7 linked regions of the Homo sapiens genome follow. The protein of the gene in region 1 purifies or fractionates together with the protein of each later gene. This does not show direct contact. Each region holds a gene or a part of one and is shown in the gene's direction. Other genes may lie near its edges. The genes, in order: LYPLA1, MTHFD2, ACADSB, TXNDC12, MSRB2, SUMF2 and MSRA.

Evidence for each region.
Region 2: the proteins of LYPLA1 (region 1) and MTHFD2 fractionate together in Homo sapiens (co-fractionation; one large-scale study listed by BioGRID). This does not show direct contact.
Region 3: the proteins of LYPLA1 (region 1) and ACADSB fractionate together in Homo sapiens (co-fractionation; one large-scale study listed by BioGRID). This does not show direct contact.
Region 4: the proteins of LYPLA1 (region 1) and TXNDC12 fractionate together in Homo sapiens (co-fractionation; one large-scale study listed by BioGRID). This does not show direct contact.
Region 5: the proteins of LYPLA1 (region 1) and MSRB2 fractionate together in Homo sapiens (co-fractionation; one large-scale study listed by BioGRID). This does not show direct contact.
Region 6: the proteins of LYPLA1 (region 1) and SUMF2 fractionate together in Homo sapiens (co-fractionation; one large-scale study listed by BioGRID). This does not show direct contact.
Region 7: the proteins of LYPLA1 (region 1) and MSRA fractionate together in Homo sapiens (co-fractionation; one large-scale study listed by BioGRID). This does not show direct contact.

What each region holds. Positions count from the first base shown.
Region 1 is NC_000008.11:54,091,948-54,095,447, reverse strand, and holds part of LYPLA1 (acyl-protein thioesterase 1), read left to right. Parts: intron 1-3,500. UniProt on the Homo sapiens protein: Acts as an acyl-protein thioesterase. Hydrolyzes fatty acids from S-acylated cysteine residues in proteins such as trimeric G alpha proteins or HRAS.
Region 2 is NC_000002.12:74,205,115-74,208,614, forward strand, and holds part of MTHFD2 (bifunctional methylenetetrahydrofolate dehydrogenase/cyclohydrolase, mitochondrial isoform A precursor), read left to right. Parts: intron 1-590; coding exon 591-775; intron 776-2,589; coding exon 2,590-2,712; intron 2,713-3,454; coding exon 3,455-3,500. UniProt on the Homo sapiens protein: Although its dehydrogenase activity is NAD-specific, it can also utilize NADP at a reduced efficiency.
Region 3 is NC_000010.11:123,015,506-123,019,005, forward strand, and holds part of ACADSB (short/branched chain specific acyl-CoA dehydrogenase, mitochondrial isoform 1 precursor), read left to right. Parts: intron 1-3,500. UniProt on the Homo sapiens protein: Short and branched chain specific acyl-CoA dehydrogenase that catalyzes the removal of one hydrogen from C-2 and C-3 of the fatty acyl-CoA thioester, resulting in the formation of trans-2-enoyl-CoA.
Region 4 is NC_000001.11:52,038,192-52,041,691, reverse strand, and holds part of TXNDC12 (thioredoxin domain-containing protein 12 precursor), read left to right. Parts: intron 1-94; coding exon 95-155; intron 156-3,500. UniProt on the Homo sapiens protein: Protein-disulfide reductase of the endoplasmic reticulum that promotes disulfide bond formation in client proteins through its thiol-disulfide oxidase activity.
Region 5 is NC_000010.11:23,116,079-23,119,578, forward strand, and holds part of MSRB2 (methionine-R-sulfoxide reductase B2, mitochondrial precursor), read left to right. Parts: intron 1-2,967; coding exon of another isoform or gene 2,968-3,097; exon of another isoform or gene 3,098-3,225; coding exon 3,226-3,373; intron 3,374-3,500. UniProt on the Homo sapiens protein: Methionine-sulfoxide reductase that specifically reduces methionine (R)-sulfoxide back to methionine.
Region 6 is NC_000007.14:56,074,286-56,077,727, forward strand, and holds part of SUMF2 (inactive C-alpha-formylglycine-generating enzyme 2 isoform b precursor), read left to right. Parts: intron 1-300; coding exon 301-451; intron 452-2,548; coding exon 2,549-2,604; intron 2,605-3,442. UniProt on the Homo sapiens protein: Lacks formylglycine generating activity and is unable to convert newly synthesized inactive sulfatases to their active form. Inhibits the activation of sulfatases by SUMF1.
Region 7 is NC_000008.11:10,052,944-10,057,091, forward strand, and holds the start of MSRA (mitochondrial peptide methionine sulfoxide reductase isoform a precursor), read left to right. Parts: upstream 1-1,348; 5' UTR 1,349-1,573; coding exon 1,574-1,715; intron 1,716-4,148. UniProt on the Homo sapiens protein: Has an important function as a repair enzyme for proteins that have been inactivated by oxidation. Catalyzes the reversible oxidation-reduction of methionine sulfoxide in proteins to methionine.

The sequences.
Region 1 (3,500 bases):
ATTCCTGATCCCCACCATATGTTCACCCATGGATTTAGCACCCATTAATGATTATTGCCAGAATCTATTGTTGTGGTAGTTGCCGAATATCTTATGATATTTAAATATTTAAAGTTAAAATATGGTCTTTTAATTAAATTTCCTTTGTTCTGGCCGGGTGCAGTGGCTCATGCCTGTAATTCCAGCACTTTGGGAGGCTGAGGCAGGAGGATCATCTGAGGTCAGTAGTTCAGTACCAGCCTGGCCAACATGACGAAACCTCGTCTCTACTAAAAATTAAAAAACTAGCTGGACAGGATGGTGCATGCCTGTTGTCCCATCTACTTGGGAGCTGGAGGTTGCAGTGAGCCAAGATGGTGCCACTGTACTCCAGCCTAGGCGACAGTGAGACTCAGTCTCAAAAAAAAAAAAAATTCCTTTATTCTGGATTTATTATTTAGCAGTCTACTGTGGGGTAGAGCTTTCCTTTCTCCTTTATTTATTACTTATGTAGATACTCATTTGTTTCAAAATTTTAAATCAGTACAGACTCTTGGATTCCTATTGTATTCAGAGGATAACAATCAAGTTAGTTATTTATTTTGATGCTCAAATTGTCCTTTAGTTGGCCACAGTAACCCTTTCAAGCTGGTACTTGGTGTCTTTTGGACATATCCTCATTCTTATTTGATCACTTCCTCACTTTATGGTACAAGACTTTTTCTAGGATTGTCTTATATGTTTCCTGCTCTAGTCCTGGACTCAGCCATTTTTCCAAGAACCCTGGTTCCTTTTAGTAGACAGTGAGATCTGGATGCTATATGTGCTCCCAGATCTAGACCCTTGCAGTGGACAGAGCTAAGAATATATGGACATACATACATATGTACACACATATCAGTTTTAGTATTTATAAGTATTCAAAATCTTGAGTTTATAATGATTCCTCCAATTGCAGCCCAGCACCACAGGGTTTATTATAGCCTTCTCCCTTTCCATATTTGTAATTCCGTGAGGAACCTGACTTCTGTTCTTGGGGGGTTCTGGCCAACAGTGCAACTGTGGAGTGTGCCCCTCCAGTTGCACCAGCTCACAGCTATGCTTCATTCATGGGACCTCTCCCCATCTGCTGAATATCACACCTGAAAGCTCAGTTCCAATTAAGGGGAAACGAGGAGGAGGAAAGGCCTGGTGGAAAGCTTGGTTCTCTTCATGTGTCCCCCTCCCTGCTACTCCCCAGCCCCGATGTATTCCAGGAATTACTTATCTGTATTACCAGTCCCTGTGACATTTCCTAGACCAAGGAGATTATAAAAGTATAGAGAAGAATGTTTGAAAGATAAAATAAGTGGTTGACTGGATCAGATTTTACTGAGAGGTCAAACAAGGTGAGGATTTAAAATAAATTGGCAACATGGATATGTTTTGTGACCGTAATAAGTTTGCAAGTCTTCCTGTAATCAAGAACTATTAATAATAGAATTATAGAATGTGATTTGGAGATCATTTAATTACAAGGAATAGAAAACTCTTCAACTAGCTTAAACAAAAATTAGAATTTGTGGAAGGATAGAAGGGCAGCCCACTGGCATATAAAGTCCATGAAGGCAAAGGTTTCTTTAATAAACTTTCATTAAGATAAAATTCACATACCATAAAATATACCTCAGCACAGGGATTTTTTGTGTTTTGTTTAAATTAATACTGTATTCCCAGTGCTAGAATAGTATAGGACATGTAATAGCACTAAGTATTTGTTGGACAAATAAATGAATAAATAAAGAATTAAAGGGTGAGACATACGAGGAGCATCAATCACCACATGTATTAGTTTCCTAAGGCTGCCATTATAAATAACCACAAACTAGATGGATTAAAAACAACAGAAATTCATTCTCACAGTTAAACAGGCCAAAAGTCCAAAACCAAGCTGTCAACAGGGCCACATACATTCTCTTTAACGGAAGATCCGTCCTTGCCTGTTCCGTTTCTGATAACTCCCGGCTTTCCTTGGCCTCAGGCACCATACCCCCAACCTCTGCCTCTGTCTTCATGTGACCTTTGCTGTGTTTCTGTTCTCTCCTCCTCTTAGGAGGACACCAGTTATTGGATTTAGGGCTCACCCTAATCAAGTGTGATCTCAACTCTTAACTAAGGAAATCTGCAAAGAGCCTATTTTTAAATAAAGTCACATTCCGAGGTTTCAGGTGGATGTGAATTTGGGGGGAACACTGTTCAACTACACCATTATTCTCACTACCTTTCCCTGGTCTTATGGTCTCTCACTTGCTTCTTTCTGTAGATTTGCGTAATTCTCAGTGTGGACACACTCGTGTTATCCACAAGTGAACGATCCTAGCTCTGACTTATATCAACCCTACTTCTGGTGTTCAGTCAAGAATCTGATCTGTCTTAGGTCATTTTTTTTCTTGTCTAGTTAGTTGGTAAGACTGATTGGGACTGATAGGAGAGTTCATAAGAATAACGTGCTACATGAATGGGGTTGGGGATGAGTGGTGTTTCTTTTACAAACCCAGACAGAATCTCTGTTCTACACCCATATTACTACAGGATAATGAACAAATGGAAATAATATGTGTGCGTGCCACCACACAGGTCCTGATTTTGTTTTGTTTTGTTTTGTTTTTAAGTAGAGACAGGGACTCATTATGTTGCCTAGGCTGGTCTCAAACTCCTGAGCTCAAGCAGTCTGTCCACCTTGGCTTCCCAAAGTGCTGGCATTACAGGTGTGAGCCACTACACCCAGCCAGAATTCTTAAATCTTGAGTTTTTCATTGTCACTGAAAATTATCAAAAGAGTTGGCTACAGCTTGGCCATCCTTTTTATATTAATATGGTTGGAGTCAGAGTTTTATAACCTGTATAGACCTTCGAATCATCCAGTACAACTAGCTCCTGGTTATGGATGGGAAAACTGAGAACTAGAAAGGCATGATTCTCATACTATAGCATGCATCAAAATCACTTGAAAGACTTGATTCTTGGGCCCCACTGCCAGTTTCTGATTGAGTGGGTCTGGAATGAGACCAAGGAATTTGTCTGCATGCCTCCTCTTCTTCTTTCTTCTTTCTTCCTCCTCTTCCTTCTCCTTCTCCTCCTCTTCCTCCTTCTCTCTCTGTCTCCTCCTTCTCCTCCTCCTCCACCTTCTCTTCCCCCTCCTTCTCTTCCTTCTTTCTCCTTCTCCTCCTTCTCCTTCTCTTCCTTCTTTCTCCTTCTCCTCCTCCTCCTCCTTCTCTTCCGTCTTTCTCCTCCTCCTCCTCCCCCTGACTTCGACAGGGTTCTCCTCCGCCGCCGCCTCTGCCTCTTCCATCTCCTCTGCCGCCGCTGCCTCCCCCTCCCCCTCTTCCTTCTCCTTTTCCTCCTCCTCCTCCTTGCTTCGACAGGGTCTCTCACTCTGTTGCCCAGGCTGGAGTGCAGTGGCGTGAACACAGCTCACTGCAGCCTTGACCTCCTGGGTTCAGCCTCCCAAGTGACTGGAAGTACAGCTGCATGCCACCATG
Region 2 (3,500 bases), on another chromosome or scaffold:
GCCCGGCCTATATTGTTTGTTTATTCAACTACAGAATATAATTTATCGATTTAAACCACCATAAAAATGAAGTCAGTTGACTGGGAAATGATTTGAAATACATGCCTGGCTGCTAACAACAGGGACAAAACACGAACTACAAATGGCATATAAGCAGATAAGAAAAACTATTTAACCTCATGGTGAGGGGTCAAACAATTGCAAATTAAAACTGTAAAACACTTAGTAATGATCAGGGCGCAGGGTGGTGTAGCAGTTAAGAGCCCAGACTGATGTGAGACTCAGCTTGACCAAGCGCTGTCAGTCACTTAAACTCCCTGAGCTTCAAATTAATGATAATAATGATTTCTATCAACTTTATCCCCCTCCATATGTAGCTGGATATATTCATTCATTTATTTATTTATTTAGCAGAGACAGGGTTTTGCCATGTTGCCCAGGCCAGTCTCAAACTCCTGGGCTCAAGCCATCCTCCTGCCCCGGCCTCCCGAAGTGCTGGGATTACAGGCATAAGCCACTACACCTGGCAGAGTTTTAGTTTTTATAAAAATTCAAGTTATTTGGTTTTGTGACTCTGTTGCCTTCTGCAGAAATGAAGCTGTTGTCATTTCTGGAAGGAAACTGGCCCAGCAGATCAAGCAGGAAGTGCGGCAGGAGGTAGAAGAGTGGGTGGCCTCAGGCAACAAACGGCCACACCTGAGTGTGATCCTGGTTGGCGAGAATCCTGCAAGTCACTCCTATGTCCTCAACAAAACCAGGGCAGCTGCAGTTGTGGGTATGTGTCCTTCTGAGACCTCGACTGCGGTTCAGTTGAGGTTTATATGAGGCAAAGTCCATTCTAATTTATGATTTCTTTTTTCTGATTAGGAAACCCAAGCAGAGGAGGCTAATGTGATTGAACTGTATCCCAAAACTTTGTCATAGGAAATCAGACTATATCTTTCGGGGTTTATACAGTAGGACAGGAGATACTGGTTGGTATTCTCTGTGGCTTCTGGAAAGAATATAAGCTACATTCTGTTCTTAGTCTTTATATTTGATAGGTGACCCTGAATGCATTTTACATTTGCTTTCCTTGAGCAATAATGGGTCTCCAGTGGAGGTGTTTGAGTGTTTGCAGCTTAAAGCCTTAGAGGCTTAGGGGGCATGATTGAGCAATACAGTATTAGGTGACCTCAGTGATGAGGTCAGGAACACAGTCGTAGATTTGAAGGAAATGACTCTGACTTCTGGGAAATAGCTTTCAAGTTCTTCACCGATTGGTTCTAAAGCCAAACATGCAGTTTAGAAGCAGTTCAGGTCTGGATGATGGGGTTTGTGTTCTAGGTCTCACGGTACCACAGATTACTGTGTCTCTGTGGACAAGAGGTGGGTGGGCAGGCTCAGATATGCCTCTGCCTGCCCATCTGTGGGCCTGTGGTCTGAGCAGCAGGTGGCCTTTCCTTCGAAGGGCTGTGAAACCACTCGCGTGGCTGGGTGGGGTTACTGGCCTGTAAGCCTGTGGTTTTCTCTGTTCTTTATTATTGAGGAGTGAGGCCTCCTGCTCTTTTAATTGAAAGCCTTTAGAAACCTCTAGATAATGGCAAGCCATGGCATTTTGTTTTGTTTTTTGAGACGGCATTTCGCTCTTGTTGCCCAGGCTGGAGTGCAACGGCGTGATCTCGGCTCTCCGCAACCTCCGCCTCCCGGGTTCAAGTAATTCTCCTGCCTCAGCCTACCGAGTAGCTGGGATTATAGGCATGGGCCACCATGCCTGGCGAATTTTGTATTTTTAGTAGAGATGGGGTTTCTCCATGTTGGTCAGGCTGGTGTCGAACTCCCGACCTTAGGTGATCCACCTGCCTCAGGTGATCTGCGCCTGCCTCAGCCTCCCAAAGTGCTGGGATTACAGGCGTGAGCCACTGTGCCTGGCCAAGCCATGGCATTTTAAGACATTGGGAGGTAGTGTGGTGCAGAAAAAAAGAACATGGATTTTGGAACCAGAAAGACTGGCTGTATTATTAGCTCGCTTATTTATTTATTTATTTATTTAGAGACGGAGTCTCGCTCTGTTGCGCAGGCTGGAATGCAGTGGTGCGATCTCAGCTCACTGCAACCCCCGCCTCCCAGGTTCAAGCGATTCTCCTGCCTCAGCCTCCCAAGTAGCTGGGACTACAGGCGCGTTCCACCAAGCCTGGCTAATTTTTTGTATTTTTAGTAGAGACGGGTTTTCACCGTGTTAGCCAGGATGGTCTCCATCTCCTGACCTCGTGATCCGCTGGCCTTGGCCTCCCAAAGTGCTGGGATTACAGGCGTGAGCTACTGTGCCTGGCCTAGCTCGCTTATTTTTAAACCTCTCTGAGCCTCAGTCTGTCTGTAAAATAAGGTTAATGAAGATTGCATAGAATGAGGTATACAGGATGTGTTAAGCTAGTATTCTCTGGTGTATATATTTGTGAAGTTACTTTTTTAGGTTCCTTGAGCTACTTCAGCTTTTAGGGATGAGTGTGATGATACAAAACCCGTATGGTAGCCAAGTATGGTAGGCAACATAGCAGTGCTCATTAAATGCCTCAAAAATTTTTTTAACCTCAAAATTTCTTATAATAGGAATCAACAGTGAGACAATTATGAAACCAGCTTCAATTTCAGAGGAAGAATTGTTGAATTTAATCAATAAACTGAATAATGATGATAATGTAGATGGCCTCCTTGTTCAGTTGCCTCTTCCAGGTGAGTTTTGGACTCCATTTAACATGATTGCTGCTGCTTCTGCTCCTTTCCCTCTCCCTCCCTCTCTCTCTCCCTCCCCATCCCCCTCCTCCTCCCTCTCCTTTCCTTGTCTCACTCTGTCACCCAGGCTAGAGTGCAATGGTACAATCATAGCTCATTGCATGCTCAAGCTCCTGGGTTCAAGGGATCCTCCTGCCTTAGCCTCCCAAATAGCTAGGACTATAGGCATGTCCACCATGCCCAGCTAATTTTTACATTTTTCCTAGAAATGAAAGTCTGTCTGTGTTGCCTGGGCTGGTCTTGGACTCTGTGCTTCCCAAAGTGCTGGGATTACAGGCATGAACTACCATGCCCTACCTAAAATGGTTTCTGAGGGGTAAAAAGGCCTTGTTACTTTATACACCTGGTTCTTCATGTGGATTTGGCTTAAAGGCAAAATAAACTCAAAAGAGTGAATATTTTATTAGAAATGGGACAGACCAACTCAGAATACCAATTACGCCTTGATTTAGTATTGTGGTCTTGATACAAAGGACAGTGGAGGGAAGCAGCTGTGATAGACGATATTGGCTTTGCTATTGGTGTTTGGCTTTGCTTATGCGAGTTCCTTCCATGCAGATGAAGTACATCTCAGAGGCAAGCTGTAGAAGAATAGATTTCCTTGCGAAGCAGATAAGCTGGAGTCAGGCAGTGCTGACTATGCGGTGGTGATTTAAGGCAACTGTGCCAATTTCTTTTTCAGAGCATATTGATGAGAGAAGGATCTGCAATGCTGTTTCTCCAGACAA
Region 3 (3,500 bases), on another chromosome or scaffold:
GAGCTATGACAACCCAAAATGTCTCCATCCATGGCCAAATGTCCCGTGGGGGCAAAATTACTGGACTGAGAACCACGGATGTAGACCTGTGTAACAGTGTACTCCATGAAGGAGGGGAAAGGTGGCCTTTCTCCTTATAACCTGGTAGGGAACTTTCTCTCTAAAACTATTTGCCATACTCAGTTTGTTGGCTATAGAAATTGATCTACAGTTTCAAAGATTTTTGTTGAAAGATTTCAATAGCAGCCATTGAGATTTTAAGGTGCTGTTTGCAAAGGAGTTTACAAGATAAAACAGTCAGCAGCTCACAAAAGGAACTCATCACGTGAGACTCTGAAGCCACATCCCACTTAGACCATTTCACAAGTCCACTTTTAGAGTAACAAGGCCCTCAATGAGGGTGATAGCACCGATGATCAGAAAGGAAGACATGTTAATAAAAGAAGACTTGAGAAGATGTGGGAATTATCTTGAAATGGAGGAATTAGATGGACTACACATTTTCTAAATGAAATAGCTTAGTGATAGGCAAAGATTGGGACATCTGGAGAAAAAGTAATTTAGGGTGACAGAAGAAAGGTAATTCTGTTTTAGACACGTTTTAGGTATTAATAAAACTTACAACTGAAAGTGTCTTAGAAGCTGGTCAGAAATGGGTCTAGAAAGTGGACCAGTGCTAAAGCTATGGTAAAAGGAAAACTTCATCTGAATTAAATTTAAAGGAGTTTAATTGAGCAGCAAATTGGGCAGCCCCCAGAACCACAGCAGATTTGGAGAGACTCCAGGGATGCCTTGTGGTCATAACAAATTTATAGACAAATGAAGGGAAGTGACAAATCGGAAGTGAGGTACACAGTGGCTGGATTGGTTACAGATTTGCAATTGTCTTATTTGAACACAGTTAGAACACTCAGCAGTCCATGAGTGGTTGAAGGATGGCTGCTGGGATTGCCCAAGACGCAGCTACTGTTACAGGCGCATACTCCTAAGTTAGGCTTTCAATCTTGTCTACCTATTAAGCTAGGTTACAGTTCATCCACAAGGACTCAAATATAGACATACGGAGTCCTTCTCAGGCAATATTTAGTTTGCTTTAAGAGCTATAAATGCTAGCCAAAACCATAAATGGGTATGGGGCATCGGAAGGATAGTGAAGAAACAGGAGTGGACAAGTCAGCCTTTGGGGTACAGTTCAGACCATCCTGGGTAAATGTTGAGAAGCAAAGAAGCAAAAGGAGACTTAGTAGGATATCAGAGGAAATTCTGTGACATATGTGTTTTATTCAGAATTGGAGCAAAAGAAGGAAAAGGATATTTAAAAGCAAACATACAGAATTTGTGTCACATAAAAAAAACAAACCTGTGAGAGCAGAAGCGGTGTGTTTTGAGAAGTGCAAGACATGGCAGGGCCAGCTAATGGAGCTGGTGGAATGCATACTGAGGAGGTTGTGAACGTGGTTCATGCTCCCTTCACTCAATTTGGTAACCCCCTGTCCCCAGCCAGTGTTGAATATGCAACCCCTGATATGGAACTCTGGTCTTTTGGCATCTATTTAAGTGTTTCTTCTGACTATCTTCCCTGAAAAAGAGGGTGAGTTGAAGAAATTCCCAATGCCTGTTAAGTTGTTGGACCCAAGTAATTATGTGATTAAAAAAAAATTTAAACTCCATAATAGTCCTATCTTTTAAAATTTCTTTGAAAATAGAAGTGAGTGTCTTGTTTCATTTTTGTCCACTGGTAATTTGGGAAAGAGAAATTGTTGACTTGGCTAAGGTCACAATAAAGGCAAGCCCAACTCCTTTACCTTATATTTATTTATTTATTTTTTTGAGACAGAGTTTCATTCTTGTTGCCTAGGCTGGAGTGCAATGCGTGATCTCAGCTCACTGCAACCTCCTCTTCCCGGGTTCAAGTGATTCTCCTGCCTCAGCCTCCCAAGCAGCTGGGATTATAGGCACCTACCACCATGCCCGGCTAATTTTTGTATTTTTAGTAGAGACAGGATTTTACCATCTTGGTCAGGCTGGTCTGGAACTCCTGACCTCACGTGATCCATCCACCTAGGCCTCCCTAAGTGCTGGGATTACAGGTGTGAGCCACCTCACCGGGTGGACACAGTTTCTAATGGCCGGCATTTGCATGTCTAAGCTTGCTGTCCCAGCTTGAAGAGCCGGGCTTTCCTGCTAGACAAGAAACGTTCCTGGAGCTGCTTTAAAAGAAACAAAAACTTCCCAAGGACACCTTTTCCTCTCTATAGGCCTAAAATAATTTTTTAATAACTCCCATAATGAAAGTCGGGGGTGGCTTCCAGGCTATAGGTAAATTTAAACATTTTCTGGTTGACAATTGGTTGAGTTGGGCTAAAAACCTGGGGTGAATAGAAAGGAATGTCTGGGTTGTGATAAGAAGTTGTAGAGACCAAAGTTTAATCATGCAGATGAAGCCTCCAGGTAGCCGACTTCAGAGAGAATGGATTGAAATGCTTCTTATTAGGCCTAAAGTTCTGTGTTGATGTTCATGCTGGTGAGGTATAATGAGGTATGTTCGACCCCCACTTCCCATCATGGCCTGAAACAGTCTCTCAGGTGAAATTTTAAGACCCCTGGCTAGGGAGGAAGTCTGTTCAGCTGGTTTGGGGGGCCTTAGAATCTTATTTTTGGTTTACACATGATTAAAAAATACTTTAGCTCCATAATAATCCTATCTTTTAAAATTTCTTTGAAAATAGAAGTGAGTGTCTGGTTTCATTTTTGTCCACTGGTAATTTGGGAAAGAGAAATTGTTGACTTGGCCAAGGTCACACTACAGGCAAACCCATTTCCTTTGTGTTGATTCCCTTGCCTTGTGTCTTGTCTTGGCTTATTTAACCCTCTTTTGAGGGAATCACTATAATTCTTAAAAGGGCAAGGCATTGTTAGGAACTCCTAAAGACTAGAATGAAGAATCAGAGACTGGTAGATGGGAAAGGTTGCGTTTTTAGCAGTTTTGGAGAATACCTAGAACAGAAGCTATTATTTATGGAGAAAGCAAGCAGAGGTTGGACAGATTCTGGTATAGAAGTTTTGGCTTGGGGATATAAAATTGGGATCAACTTAAAATCTAATCCATTGGTACACTGCTAATAAAGGCATACCCAAGACTGGGTAATTTATAAAGAAAAAGAGATTTAATGGATTCGCAGTTCCACGTGGCTGACGAGGCCCCACAATTGTGGTGAGGAAGGTGAGGGAGGAGCAAAGGCACGTCTTACATAGCAGCAGGCAAGAGAGAAGTGCAGGGGAACTGCCCTTTATAAAACGATCAGATCTTGTGAGACTTATTCACTATCACGAGAACAACACAGGAACAACCCGCCCCCATGATTCAGTTACCTCCCACTGGGTCCCTCCCATGACACATGGGGATTATGGGAGCTACAATTCAAGATGAGATTTGGGTGGGGACACAGCCAAACCATATCAAGCAGGTATGAACAATTTGGCTTAGGAAATCAAAATCA
Region 4 (3,500 bases), on another chromosome or scaffold:
TTCTTAGTGGGTATCTTGTGAACATGCACACTTCCTTCTTGGGACTGTGCCCTTTGTTCATTATGTGAATGCTTATAAAGTTCTTTCCTTCCAGGTTTTGGAGATCATATTCATTGGAGGACACTGGAAGATGGGAAGAAAGAAGCAGCTGCCAGGTACAAGACATGGTTTTAGGTCATTTATGGTGGTAAAACACTTTTCAGCTATCAACTTAACGTTAATTTCAGGTGAAGGGCTATACCAAGGCAGAGCAAGAACTGAATAGTTGCCTAATTACAACAACAGCAATAATAATGGCTAACATTTATAGTTGAGCCTTGAACAACATGGGTTTTTTTTCTTTTTTTTTTTTTCTTTTTGAGATGGAGTCTCACTCTCTCGCCCAGGCTGGAGTGCAGTGGCACGATCTCGGCTCACTGCAAGCTCCACCTCCTGGGCTCACGCCATTCTCCTGCCTCAGCCTCCCGAGTAGCTGGGACTACAGGCACCCGCCACCACGCCTGGCTAATTTTTTTGTATTTTTAGTAGAGACGGGGTTTCACCGTGTTAGCCAGGATGGTCTCAATCTCCTGATCTCATGATCCACCCGCCTCGGCCTCCCAAAGTGCTGGGATTACAGGCGTGAGCCACCGCGCCCGGCCTTTTTTTTTCTTTTTTGAGACAGAGTCTTGCTTTGTCACCCAGGCGGGAGTGCAGTGGTGCGATCTTCATTCATTGCAACCTCCACCTCCCAGGTTCAAGCAATTCTTGTCAAGCCTCAGCCTCCCACGTAGCTGAGATTACAGGCATGTGCCACCATTGCCGGCTAATTTTTGTAGTTTTTAGTAGAGACGGGGTTTCACCATGTTGGCCAGGCTGGTCTTGAGCTCCCAACCTCAGGCGATCCACCTGCCTCGGCCTCCCAAAGTGCTGGGATTACAGATGTGAGCCACCACGCCCGGCCAAACAACATGGGTTTGAACTGCACAGGTCCACTTATATGTGGATTTTTTTCAGTAATAAATGCATTGGAAACTGTTTTGGAGATTTCAAGCAGTTTCAAAAAACTTGCAGATGAACAGCATAGCCTAGAAATATCAAAAAACTTAAAAAATTGGTATGTTACAAGTGTAAAAATATATGTAGGTATTAGTCTATATTATCATTTACTACCATAAAACATACAGAAATCTACAAGTTAAAATTTATCAAAACTTCTGCACACTGGCTGGGTGCGGTGGCTCATGCCTGTAATCCCAGCACTTTGGTAGGTTGAGGCGGGCAGATCACTTGAGCCCAGGAGGTTGAGACCAATCTGGGCAACATGGTGAAACCCCTTCTCTACAAAAAATACCAGTTACTTGAGGGGGCTGAGGTGGGAGGATCAATTGAGCCTGGGAGTTTGAGGCTGCAGTGAGCTAAGACCATGCCACTGTACTGCAGCCTGGAAACAGAGTGAGACCCTGTCTAAAAAGCTTCTGGCCAGGCATGGTGGCTCACGCTTGTAATCTCAGCACTTTGGGAGGCTGAGGCGGGCAGATTACCTGAGGTCGGGAGTTCAAGACCACCCTGGCCAACATGGTAAAACCCCGTCTCTACTAAAAATACAAAAATTACCTGGGCATGGTGGTGTGCACCTGTAGTCTCAGCTACTAGGGGAGGCTGAAGCAAGAGAATCACTTGAACCCGGGAGGTGGAGGTTGCAGTGCGCTGAGATTGCACCACTGTACTCCAGCCTGGGAGACAAAGCGAGACTCTGTCTTAAAAAACAAAAATAAAAAATAAAAATAAAAATAAAAAAATAAAAAACTTCTGCACACAAACACCTATAGACCACACATGCTGCCATTTGCAGAAGGGAGAAATGTAAACAAATGTAAAGATGCCATATTAAATCATAACTGCATAAAAATTAACTGTAGTATATAACATTACTAATAATTTTGTGGCCACCTCCTGTTGCTATGGAGGTGAACTCAAGTATTGTGAGTATCCACTTAAAATGCCGTGCAACATTAATCATCTTCAGTGAGCAGTACGTCTCTCCAGTGTATTGCGTATCGCAGTATAACGTAGTTTCTCAGCTGGGCGCGGTGGCTCACACCTGTAATCCCAGCACTTTAGGAGGCCGAGGTGGGTGGATCACTTGAGGTCAGGAGTTCGAGACCAGCCTAGCCAACATGGTGAAACCCTGTCTCTACTAAAAATACAAAAAACTTAGCTGGGCATGGTGGGCGCATGCCTGTAATCCCAGCTACTTGGGAGGCTGAGGCAGGAGAATCGCTTGAACCTGGGAGACGGAGTTGCAGTAAGCCAAGATCACGCCATTGCACTCCAGCCTGGGAGACAGAGCGAGACTTGGTCTCAAAAAAAAAAAAATTAATCTCTTACAACTCTTGCATATTTTTCCTGGTATTTAGTACAATATCATAAACCTAGAATAACACCATGAAACCCATACAAGGTGCCATTGGTGATGCTGGAAGTGTTCCCAAGAAGCAGAGAATGCTCATGACATTACAAGAAAAAATTGAATTGCTTGATATGTACTGTAGACTGAGGTCTACACAGGTAGTTGCTTGTCGTTTCAAGATAAATGAACCCTTTTTTTTTTTTTTTTTTTTGAGACGGTGTCTTGCTCTGGCCTGGCCAGATGAATCCATTTTGAGAGTCTGAGGCAGGAGGACTGATTGAGCCCAGTAGATTGAGACCAGCCTGGGCAACAAAGTAAGACCCTGTCTCTACAAAAAAAAATTTTTTTAAAGATAAATCCAGCGTAAGGACCAATTGCGTAAAAAAAAAAAAAAAACAGAAAAAGAAAAAAAAAAGAAAATTCATGAAGTTGTCACTGTAGCTATGCCAACAGGTGCAAAAACCTTGCACTTTTTGCCAAATGCCTTTTTATGTGCATAATATGTAGCTTTTACATGGGTACTATAAAAAGGCATACCTATTGACTCTAATATGATTTGAGAAAAAGCAAAGTCATTATATGGCAACTTAAAGCAAAAAGAAGGTGAAGGATCTAAAGCTGGAGTATTTAATGACAACAAATGATGGTTTGCTGATTTTAGAAAGAGGTTTGGCTTAAAAAATGTCAAGACAGGCTGGGCGCAGTGTTGCCCGTAATCCCAGCACTTTGGCAGTCCAAGGCGGGTGGATCATTTGAGGTCAAGAGTTTATGACCAGCCTGGCCAACATGGTGAAACCCCGTCTCTACAAAAAATACAAAAACTAGCTAGGTGGTAGTGGTCCATGCCTATAATCCCAGCTACTTGGGAGGCTGAGGCAGGAGAATCGCTTGAGCCTGGGAGGCGGAGGTTGCATGAGCCGAGATCCCCCCACTGCACTCCAGCCTGGGTGACAGAGTGAGACCCTGTCTCAAAAAAAAAAAAAACAAGATACAGGAGAAGCAGCTTATGCTGACCAAGAGGCAGCAGATGAATTCTCAGACACCGTTAAGAAAATCATTGAAGAGAAAGGATATCTGCCTGAACAGGTGTTTAATGCAGATTAAGGTA
Region 5 (3,500 bases), on another chromosome or scaffold:
TTCCATAGATTTCTGGTATTAATAATAAAAAAATATTAAAAAATAGCTACCAACTCAAGTGCCATGTGTCAGGTACTATGCTAAGCACACACACAGAAAGTGAGGTGATAATGCCATTGCTATTGTTAGCTTAAAACAATCATACAATCTATAAATTTAGAAAAGGAGACTTTATTTCTTCTAAAGGGTTACAGCCTTCAAGGTGGCCATCCTACAGGCTGGGAAGCGAGCTCCCAGCCAAGAGCAGATGCAGGCACTTGGAAGGGGGAGCAGCTGGGGTAGGAGCTTTATGCTGAGAGGGTTGGCTAAATATACCTATTTAACAGATCACAGAAGGGGCTATGAAAATTTGTGAAGATGGTCCTGACATACACATATTGAACAAACATGCATGTAACATATGACCTATGTTTATTTGGGGGTAGAAACTTAACATTTAAATGTATTATAATTAGATCCTATACATCAAAAGGTCTTTCAGGATATGAAGGCCCACAAGTGCACAGCCTCTGTAAACCATCCAGAACCACTTCATGGTCTTTTAATCAGGAGAAAGTTACTAAAATCAGTCTCTTGTGCAATCAAAGCTGTAGTTACGGCTGGTGGAACAGAGGGTCTCAGCTAGTCAGTGTCTGATGGTAGATGAGCTGCAATTGCTTCAACACTGCTTATCTCAAGGCCAGTGATTGTTTAGCTGCTAGAGAAGAAGAAAACCCCTGTGGCAGTTAGAGTTGATTCTTTAAGTGTAGGGGTGCATGACTTCACCCTCGCCTGGCATGGCCTTAGGTCCTGTTTATAATTTGGTATATTATTGCCACAAAGAGGCTGTTCTGCCAGTCTTATGATCTCTATTTAAACATTAATGCTGGTCATTTGTTGTGTCTAAACCACAAAAGGGAGAGGGTATAATGAGGTGTGTCTGACCTCCTGTCCCATCATGACCGGAAACTCGATTTAAAGGTTTTTCTGGAGTCCTCTTGGCCAAGAAGGGCTCTATTCAGTCAGTGGGTGGCTTAGAACTTTATTTTTAGTTTATACTTATCTATAGACTAGGATGCTGAGGCTTCAAAAAATTAAATGACTTGCCAAGGTGATACAGATGTAACAGACAGATCCCAGATTCACACACAAATCTTTCAGAAGTCAAAGCCCTTCCTCTAATGGCTATACCTGTGGTTCTTAAAGCCTGGTCTGAGGACCCCAGAGATTCCTGGGGGGGACCTTTCTAGGGGCTTTTCCAACCACACTTGAGACCACTTGAGGCCACATCCTCTTATACTCCAATCAAAACAACATAGCAACAGACTGAATTCAGAGGCACATATGAAGATTCAGTTGTCTTTTTTTTAAGCCGGATGTTAAAGAGCCTTGCAAAATTGTAAAACAGTGCAACTCTTCTCATGAAATGTTTGTTTCATTTTGAAAAGTATAATTATTTGCCTTAAATATATGTTATGTTAACATATAATAAATTTATTTCAGGTTGAGCATCTCTACTCTGAAAATTCGAAATCTGAAATGCACCCAAATCTGAAACTTTTTTATTTTTTGAGACAGAGTCTCGCTCTGTTGACTGATCTCCACTCACTGCAACCACTGCTTCCTGGGGTCAAGTTATTCTCCTGCCTCAGCCTCCCAAGTAGCTAGGACTACAGGCATGCACCACCATGCCCAGCTAGTTTTTCTATTTTTAGTAGAGAGGGGGTTTCACCATGTTGGCCAGGCTGGTCTCGAACTCCTGAGCTCAAGTGATCCACCCGCTTCCACCTCCTAAAAAGCTGGGATTATAGGCGTGGGCCACCACGCCAGCAAAATTCGAAACTTTTTGAGAACCAACATGCTAGTCAAAGGAAATGCTCACTGGAGTATTGCAGATTAAGGATGCTTAGCCATCAAGTAAAATGCAAAATTCAAAAAGATCTGAAATCCGAAACACTTCTGGTCCTAAGCATTTCAGATAAGGGGCACTCAACCTATATTAAAAAAAAATTAATGCACACATATTTTTAAATTCTCATTTATAATGTATAATTTGTTAAATGTTGACATACGTAACTCACAGACAAAAGCTCTCAGCAATCCCTATTAATTTTGGGGACACAGAGGGGACATGAGGGGTGCCGAGACCAAAATGTTTGAGAATTGCTGCATTACACAATTGTTTCTGTGGGAGTTTGTGCTGCCAGCTAGGCTTCCTTCTGTGTTCATAGTCTAGGGATTTGATTCTTTGCTACTTTTTCTTCTTAGATTAGTTTTTTGTTTTTTTTTTTTTTTTTTTGGCTGGGTCTAACATTCAGTTCTTCTCTTTCTTCCTTAGATAGAGAGAGCCATTTCCTTGCCACAGCAATTTTTGAAGTCTATTTTCCCAGTGCCATTTAAGGGAGCTTATCCATGAGAGCACTTAGAGGGTGGGTCTTTGGTGAGTGGATTTGCCTGCTGTCCTTCTCCTTGTGCCAGCATCATGAGTCCCTGGGAGACTTCTGGAGGGTTAGGTTTCACTGCAGTGATTGATGCCAGGTACCCAGGCGTATTAATTAATACTAATCATCACCATCACAGCAAGCATTCAGGGAACTTACCATGTGCCCAGCACCGTGCTAAGCTTTATGTCACACTTCAGTTTCCCCTCAAATCCTCAAAACAGCCCTGTAGGGTAGATATTATTCCCATTTGCTAGGTGAGCAAACTGAGGCTTCAAGAGCTGTGGTTTCACACAGCTAAGAAGTGGCCAGAGGCAGCTTTTGAATCCCTGGTCAGGCGTCTGTGTTGAGATAACCTGAAATTCCTGTTGCCAAGCATGACTTTCTCATCAGACCTTACACTTCTGCGCTGCTCTAAGATGATGATGACTTCCTCCGAGCATTAGTATTTCGTTTTGATTTCTCCCCTTTTGACATTTTCAACACATGGGTTTGATCTGTGTTACCTAATATGCAACACAGTTCACAAAACACCATGTGTTTTTAGATCCTTGTTGGATATCCAGAAAGAAGTCTTTAGCATCAAAGGATCAAGAAGTCCTTCCACTTCGAGAGGCAATGGCTTCGATAGTGAAGGTGCAGTGAGGACGATTCCGGGGGGACTGACTGTCGAATAACTGGGCATGGGATCTGGCAGAGGAGAGTGGGAACAGATCCTGCTGCCTGGAACAACACATCGGGGCACCTCTTGGCATGTTAATGACAGTGTCATTAGCAGCTGTAGTATCGTTTATGTCTTCCACAGTTCTGAGAAAAAGTACTGCTCTGGCACTGGGTGGCCTTCGTTTTCCGAGGCTCATGGTACGTCTGGCTCTGATGAAAGCCACACAGGGATCCTGAGACGTCTGGATACCTCGTTAGGATCAGCTCGCACAGAGGTTGTCTGCAAGCAGGTGAGGTTTCTCATTTTGTTTTACTTTCCCTGATGCTGCCCCCAATGCCACAAAGAGCTCTCTTGTTCTTGGCAAATCTGGTGTCCTTTTATAGGGGTACTTTCTTTTGTCTTCAGAACACATGGGG
Region 6 (3,442 bases), on another chromosome or scaffold:
TCTCTACCCCTCGTACATCCAGGAACACTGAGTTTCAAAGAAGGATAGGGGAATATCAGGGAAAGCGCTCAGCAGGCCTGTTTCACCTGCCCGAATCCTGTTTCCTGTTACCCATCCATTTCTCCCTTCAGCCTCCTGTAGTCTCTTTTTTCTGACTCCGACCACTGGTCACTCACCCGGCTCTCTTCCAGCTCTCTTGCTCCATCTAGTGGTAAAAGCTGAACGCGGGCGCCCTAAACCTAGCCTGCCTCCGACTTAATGCGCTCCCGGAAGCCTGTCTCACTTAATCCTGGCTGTCAGCCTGCAGGTCCTGGCTCTGGCATCCGAGAGAGACTGGAGCACCCAGTGTTACACGTGAGCTGGAATGACGCCCGTGCCTACTGTGCTTGGCGGGGAAAACGACTGCCCACGGAGGAAGAGTGGGAGTTTGCCGCCCGAGGGGGCTTGAAGGGTATCCAGATGATAAGGCGATTTTCCTTTATTCTTCTCCCCATCCTGCCCAGCATGAGGGGCTTTAAAGGGTGGAAAGGGGCTGGGCGCAGTGGCTTATGCCTGTAATCCCAACACTTTGGGAGGCTGGGGCAGGAGGATCGCTTGAGGCCAGGAGTAAAAGACTAGCCTGGGCAATATAGGGAGACCCTGTCTCTCCGAAAAATACAAAAATGAGCTGGGCCTGGTGGCATGTGCCTGTAGTCCCAGCTACTCAGGAGGCTGAGGTGGGAAGATCCTTTGAGCCTAGGAGTTCAAAGCTGCGGCGAGCTATGATCGCACCACTGCTGTCTGGCCTGAGTGACAGAACAAGACCCTGTCTCAAAAGAAAAAGCGGGGGGATGGGGCAGGAAGGGTCTGTGTTCCCTAGAGCAGTGCTTCTTAAGCTATCTGTGGTGGAGGACCAGTGTTTTTTTTTTTTTTTAATTTCTAGTCCATCTCAGACTGATATAAAATACCATAAAAATTAATAACTGGAAAATTGAAAGAACAGACATAAAATATTTTATTGGAAATTCCACAGACATGTTACATTTCAATAAATATAACTAGAGCAACATAGCATAAGGAAAAAGAATTACCAAGACTACACACTTCTGCCTCTGGGGTACAGAGATTAATGTTAAGAGTCACTGTTTGCGGCCGGGCGCAGTGGCTCACGCCTGTAATCAAAGCACTTTGGGAGGCCGAGGTGGGTGGATCACGAGGTCAGGAGGTTGAGACCATCCTGGCTAACACAGTGAAACCCCGTCTCTACTAAAAATACAAAAAAAAATTAGCTGGGCTTGGTGGCGGGCGCCTGTAGTCCCAGCTACTTGGGAGGCTGAGGCAGGGGAATGGCGTGAACCTGGCAGGTGGAGGTTGCAGTGAGCCGAGATCACGCCACTGCACTCCAGCCTGGGCGACAGAGTAAGACTCCGTCTCAAAAAAAAAAAAAAAGAATCACTGTTTGCTCCTAACTCGGTCATTTGTCATTCTGCAATCCTAATTACACAAAAAGTTAGGACAGCAAAAAGCAACTCCGCACATTAAACCCCTCTACACAATCTTTCAGTGAACACCAGGTACATCAGTGATCAAAGTTTTTTGTTTTTTGTTTTTTGTTTTGAGACAGTCTAGCTCTGTCGCCCAAGGCTGGAGTACAGTGGCACGATCTCAGCTCCCTGCAACCTCCGCCTCCCGGGTTCAAGGGATTCTCCTGCCTCAGCCTCCCTAGTACCTGGGATTACAGGCACCTGCCACCATGCCCGGCTATTTTTTTTTTTTTTTTGAGACAGAGTGTCGCTGTGTCGCCCAGGCTGGAGTATGGTGGCGCGATCGCGGCTCACTGCAAGCTCCGCCTCCCGGGTTCACGCCATTCTCCTGCCTCAGCCTCCCAAGTAGCTGGGACTACAGGCGCCCGCCACCTCGCCCGGCTAATTTTTTGTATTTTTAGTAGAGACGGGGTTTCACCGTGTTAGCCAGGATGATCTCGATCTCCTGACCTCCTGATCCGTCTGCCTTGGCCTCCCAAAGTGCTGGGATTACAGGCGTGAGCCACCATGCCCTGCATAATTTTTGTATTTTTAGTAGAGACAGGATTTCACTGTGTTGGCCAGGCTGGTCTCGAACTCCTGACCTCGTGATCCATCTGCCTCGGTCTCCCAAAGTGCTGGGATTACAAGTGTGAGCCACCGCGACCAGCCAGTGATCGAAGTTTTTAATATGACCTGTGAGGTTGCCTCTGGCTCATTCATTTATGCAATCTAAGTCCAATTTCAAGTTTCTCGATTTCTGTACTTTTCTCAACATGAACTGATAACAGATGCTTTATAAACTGGCTCAGGTCCCAGAACCATGCTTAGGATTACATTGCCCTGGAGCACATGAGGAGGCCAGGGCCCTCTAATGCAGTTCAGCGAGTGGAGAGGATGGGCATGGCAAATAAAAGCAGGTCATTCACTCTTTTTTCTCATCACCCTCTAACTTCCTTTTGATTCCCTCACTCTTTCTGTGTTCTTTTTTCCTTCCCTAATTCTTCACCTCCCCCTCCTCTGCTGCCTCCTTGCTCTCCTCGCAGGTCAAGTTTACCCATGGGGGAACTGGTTCCAGCCAAACCGCACCAACCTGTGGCAGGTAAGACCTACGTTCCTCCTTTCACCAAGCATTGACAGAGACCTGCTGGAGGCTGGGCACTGTGTTGTTAGGCCGCGGCATCCAGAAGGCTTGGGTTCTAATGCAACTGATGACTCATAAGCTGGTAAAGCAAAAGACAATGGGTCATAAGTGCTTTCTTTTTTTTTTTTTTTTTGAGACAGAGTCTCTCTCTGTTGCCCACGCTGGAGTGCAGTGGTGCGATCTTGGCTCACTGCAACCTCCGCCTCCCAGGTTCAAGCGATTCTCCTGCCCCAGTCTCCCAAGTAGTTGGGATTACAGGTGCCTGCCACCATGCCCAGCTAATTTTTTTGTATTTTTAGTAGAGATGGGGTTTTGCCATGTTGGCCAGGCTGGTCTCAAACTCCTGACCTCAGGTGATCCACCCGCCTTGGCCTCCTAAAGTGCTGGGATTACAGGCATGAGCCACCGTGCCCAGCCAGCGTAAGTACTTTCTATTAAAGAGTTGTAGGGCTGGGTGCAGTGGCTCACGCCTGTAATCCCAGCACTTTGGGAGGCCGAGGCGGGTGGATCACCTGAGGTCAGGAGTTCAAGACCAGCCTGGCCAATATGGTGAAACCCTGCTTCTACAAAAAATAAAAGATGAGCTGGGCATGGTGGCATGCACCTGTAATCCCAGCTGCTTGGGGCTTGGGCAGGAGAATCACTTGAACCCAGGAGGCGGAGGTTGCAGTGAGCTACCACTGTACTCTAGCCTTGGCGACAGAACGAGACCCTGCCTCAAAAAAAAAAAAGTGAATAAAAAATAAAACTAAAATAAGCAAATAAAAAAGCACTGTCCTGAGAAGGCCAGCAGGAA
Region 7 (4,148 bases), about 44 Mb from region 1:
AGCTCACTGCAGCCTCTACCTCTCTGGCTCCAGCGTTCCTCCTGGTGCAGCCTCCCAAGTAGTTGGGACCACAGGTGTGCGCTACCACACCACCATGCCCAACTACTTAAATACCTTTTTTTTTTTTTTTTTTGGTAAAGATGGCGTCTCAAACTCCTGGCCTCCAGCAATCCTCCTGCCTCAGCCTCTCAAAGTGTTGGGATTACAGGAGTGAGCCATCATGCCAAGTAAGTTATTTCTTCACACTAAACATTCTTCAGCTCTTAGTTGCAGAGTATTTCTAGCATGTGAAACTTCATACAATCAACCACAAAACACAGACAAATCAGTATGTATCAAAAAGAAGTAACTGAAAAACACAAAATATTGTCTTTGACAGAATGACTATTTTTTCAGACCCTTAATAGTGACCAGGCCTTCGCAAGCCTAGAAGGGACTCCTGGGGGTGTTTTCATGAAAGGCCTGTGGAACCGACTTGGTATAGCCTCATAGCAATAACAAACAGTTTAGGTATCATTTTGTCCAGGGGAAATACAAATTACAAAATCAAAGCTAGAGCCTTTTTAGTGTTGTATGCCTGGCAACACACCTCATTCTACACTATAGCACTGCTAAGCCTCCTGCCCTCCTTACAGTCCAGACCACATGAAAACAAAGTGGTAACTAAATCCATGCAAGAAGCTGGGTGAAAGCCTCCTTTCTGTGGGTGCTAATCTGAAGTTCCCTCCCTCATCTGAGACGACCTGCCCATTTTGGCAGAACATGTGTTAAGCCAAAATCTCACACAGATGAACTCCCAAGTCACTCACCTCGCTCCAACCACTTTACATTTAGTTTGAGAATGTCACAGGAACAAATGTCATCTCCTATGATTTGAGAAACAAGAATAATACAACACCACCATTAAGTCCACCTACACTGCCTTAATGGTGCTGTTGGTGCCTTGCTCCCGTATTTTGGCCGCTGCAAAATGGGCTTAAATATGTTTGTAAATACATAACTTAATATTGAATTCATCTTCCCTATTCCGCGCATTTTGAGAACTGTGCTTAGTTTTCACTTTGGACGAATAGCAACCCTTCTGATGGCCGTCATGACAATGTCTCCAATAAAAACTGACAGTCTAGCTGGCTGCAAGGCAGGTCCTCTTCTATCTTACTGGGCACTGCTAAACTGCGAAGTCGGGGCGACACGGCAGCAACTTTAAAATCAAACCGCATCCCCAAGGGCTCGGCGTGTTTTTTGGCCTCTGCAGCTTCACGTACTTCGTACGACAGGAGCGCACTTGTTCTCTGTCCGAGAACTTCGTCCCGAGAGAACCTCAGGAACTCGCCGGGCCACACCCCCTGTCCAGGGAAGGAACACGCCCCCGGTGACAGCCGGTACGGCCCCGGGTTTGGGCAACCTCGATTACGGGCGGCCTCCAGCCCCGCCAGCAGCGCCCCGCGCCCGCCCGCCCGCGCCCCTGCCGCCCCCCGGTTCCGGCCGCGGACCCCACTCTCTGCCGTTCCGGCTGCGGCTCCGCTGCCGGTAGCGCCGTCCCCCGGGACCACCCTTCGGCTGGCGCCCTCCCATGCTCTCGGCCACCCGGAGGGCTTGCCAGCTCCTCCTCCTCCACAGCCTCTTTCCCGTCCCGAGGATGGGCAACTCGGCCTCGAACATCGTCAGCCCCCAGGAGGCCTTGCCGGGCCGGAAGGAACAGACCCCTGTAGCGGGTAAGCACTGGCCACACGGAAGGCGCGGGCGGCGACGCTGCGCATGCGCGCCTTTGCCCGGCGGCAGCGCGCCCGCTGCCCGGAAGGAAGCCGTGGGCTGGCCTCGGGCGGGTCGCGGGGTGGGGGTCTGCGCAGGCGCGAAGGGGCGCCGGCAGTGGCCGGGGAGACGCTGGGGTCCACTGACGTCCCTTTGTCTTTGTTTGGCTCGTCATCTTCTGGAGCCAAACTGGGCATTCTGAAGGAATCTAGTGCATCGGTCTCACTTACCCGGAGTGCATACCGTCGCGGCCCCAAGTTTTGGGCAGGAAATGTGCCGCTGGGGTCTGGCCTTGCTCGCGGGCGCCCGCGGCGCTGTGCCTGCGCCCTCCTTTCTTGTCTCCTCTGCGCCGGCCGCCGGGACCCAGGGCACCTGCAGCGGGGCTGGTGCGAGTGTTGTCCCGGGAAATGCCGGAATGAGACGAGACGATGAAAACCTTAAGTGTGGAACTGCGTCTCAGGCCAGTGTTCTGGCTGAGTCACCCCTAGTCACCCCTCGTGCCCTAGGTCGGCCCCGCTGTCCCCAGGGGCAGGGGCTGCCGTATGCTGGGTCAGCTTAAAGCGATGCTCCACAAACTTGGACAACTTTCTAGTCGTTCTCACATCAGTACTTTGGGAAAATACAATAAGGGTGAAATACTAGAAAAATGTTCACGTGCTTCGATGCCATGTAATGGTAAACTGCTATAAAAGTTTTCAAAATCTTGGCAATTTCTGCTGCAGACAGCACGCGTTTCCCAGAACGAGGGCCACACGTTAATATTACCTTAGTGCAGCGCTTCTCAGAGTGCCCCCACCTGCCGCAGCAGCAGCAGCATCACCACCTGGGTGGGCGTTCCCCCATTACTGAATCGGAGACTCTGGGGGTGGAGCCCAACAATCTCTAAAACAAGTCCTCCAGGTGATTGTAATGTACGCTGTAGCTTGTAAACCACTGCCTTAGAGCTGTTGGAGGATTAAGTGATGTTTAATCTACACATGGCTCAATGCCAGAGAAATTCAGCATTTAAAAAATTTCCTTAGAAGTTTCTTTTTCTTTTCCTTCAAGAATTGTTGAGGATAGGAGGAGGTCATATTGAGAGTTTGTCATCTCGTAGAATAATCAGTATGAGATTAGAAAAGGTAGAGGTTTTTTGGATTAGAGGCAGTTTAGAAATCGTGTGACTGGCTTATTATTAATCGAATTAGCAGTTTCTGTTTCCTGGTTTCCCCATCATTTCACCTGCTACTCAGCCGTAAAAGTTTATTTTTGATTCAAATGCAGAGATTGAGTTTTGAAACAAATCTAGATTAGTAAACATCTATACTTATATATAGATTTATAAAATATAACCAGATTATCTAAAACTTATAAATGCATCTTAAAATTTTTTCTTTCTTTTACAGGCAGGAATTTATACGTGCATGTTTAAAGGCGATACTTTTCAAATGCCAGACTTCCTCAGCTTGTGCTATACTTCCCGTTCACACACTGCCGTGTCTTTGCTATGCCCTCCCATACACCAAAAAAAAAAAAAAAAAAAAAAACCCCAAATAATCCAAAAACTCTTGTTCAGATTTCCAAACTGGTTCAAGGTCAAGATGGACCAAAATTTACTTTGGCTTTATCTTAACCAAAGTCTTCCCAATCAGTTTCCTAATATGTAAATGACATTTTTGGTAAAAGATGAGCAAACATTTCAGAAATGAGCCAACAATTTTTTTCTTATCCCCATCATAACTTTTAACTGCAAAACCTCAGGACCTGGTTCTTTTCCAGGCTCTGCTGTCTCCATATAGCTGTGAGTGTTTTTGGTACACCAACACATCTCTGTATCTGGGCCAGTAAACTTTTTTTTTTTTTTTTTGGTGTAGGGCCAAGCCTACAATGCATATGTCCTTATTGTTCATCTATTGTAACTTTTTCCACAAAAAGTGTGTGAAATTTAGATTGTGGACGTTCCAGTCTCCACTTCTGAGCCTTGAGAGGTTGCTGAAAGCCCTGACTGGCTCCAGAAATGGGCAGTGTTACCTCTTCAGTGGGTTTCAGTAGCTGTAAACTTGAAACTTAAGGATTTAGTATTGTTCTGAATGTGGAATTCACCTCCACTGCAACTTGGATCCTGTTTAACAACTCCTCCCTTCTCTATATTACCTCCATCCATGTCTGTTCTTATTTGTACCCTGACCCTCAAAAGTTGCGTGACAAAAGCATCACCTTTTGACTGCAGAAGGCCTGTTTCTTTAGTGCGTTTAGATAAGCCTAGTATCAGGTGTGTACCATTACCAAATACTTGAGGTGTTAAGGATTACCATCTTAGCGTTCATCCTACCATTTTTATATTCTTAAGGACAATTCCACCCTTTTACACACTGTGACCAAGATTTCCACCTTGCAAGAAGGAAAGAGTCAAACCT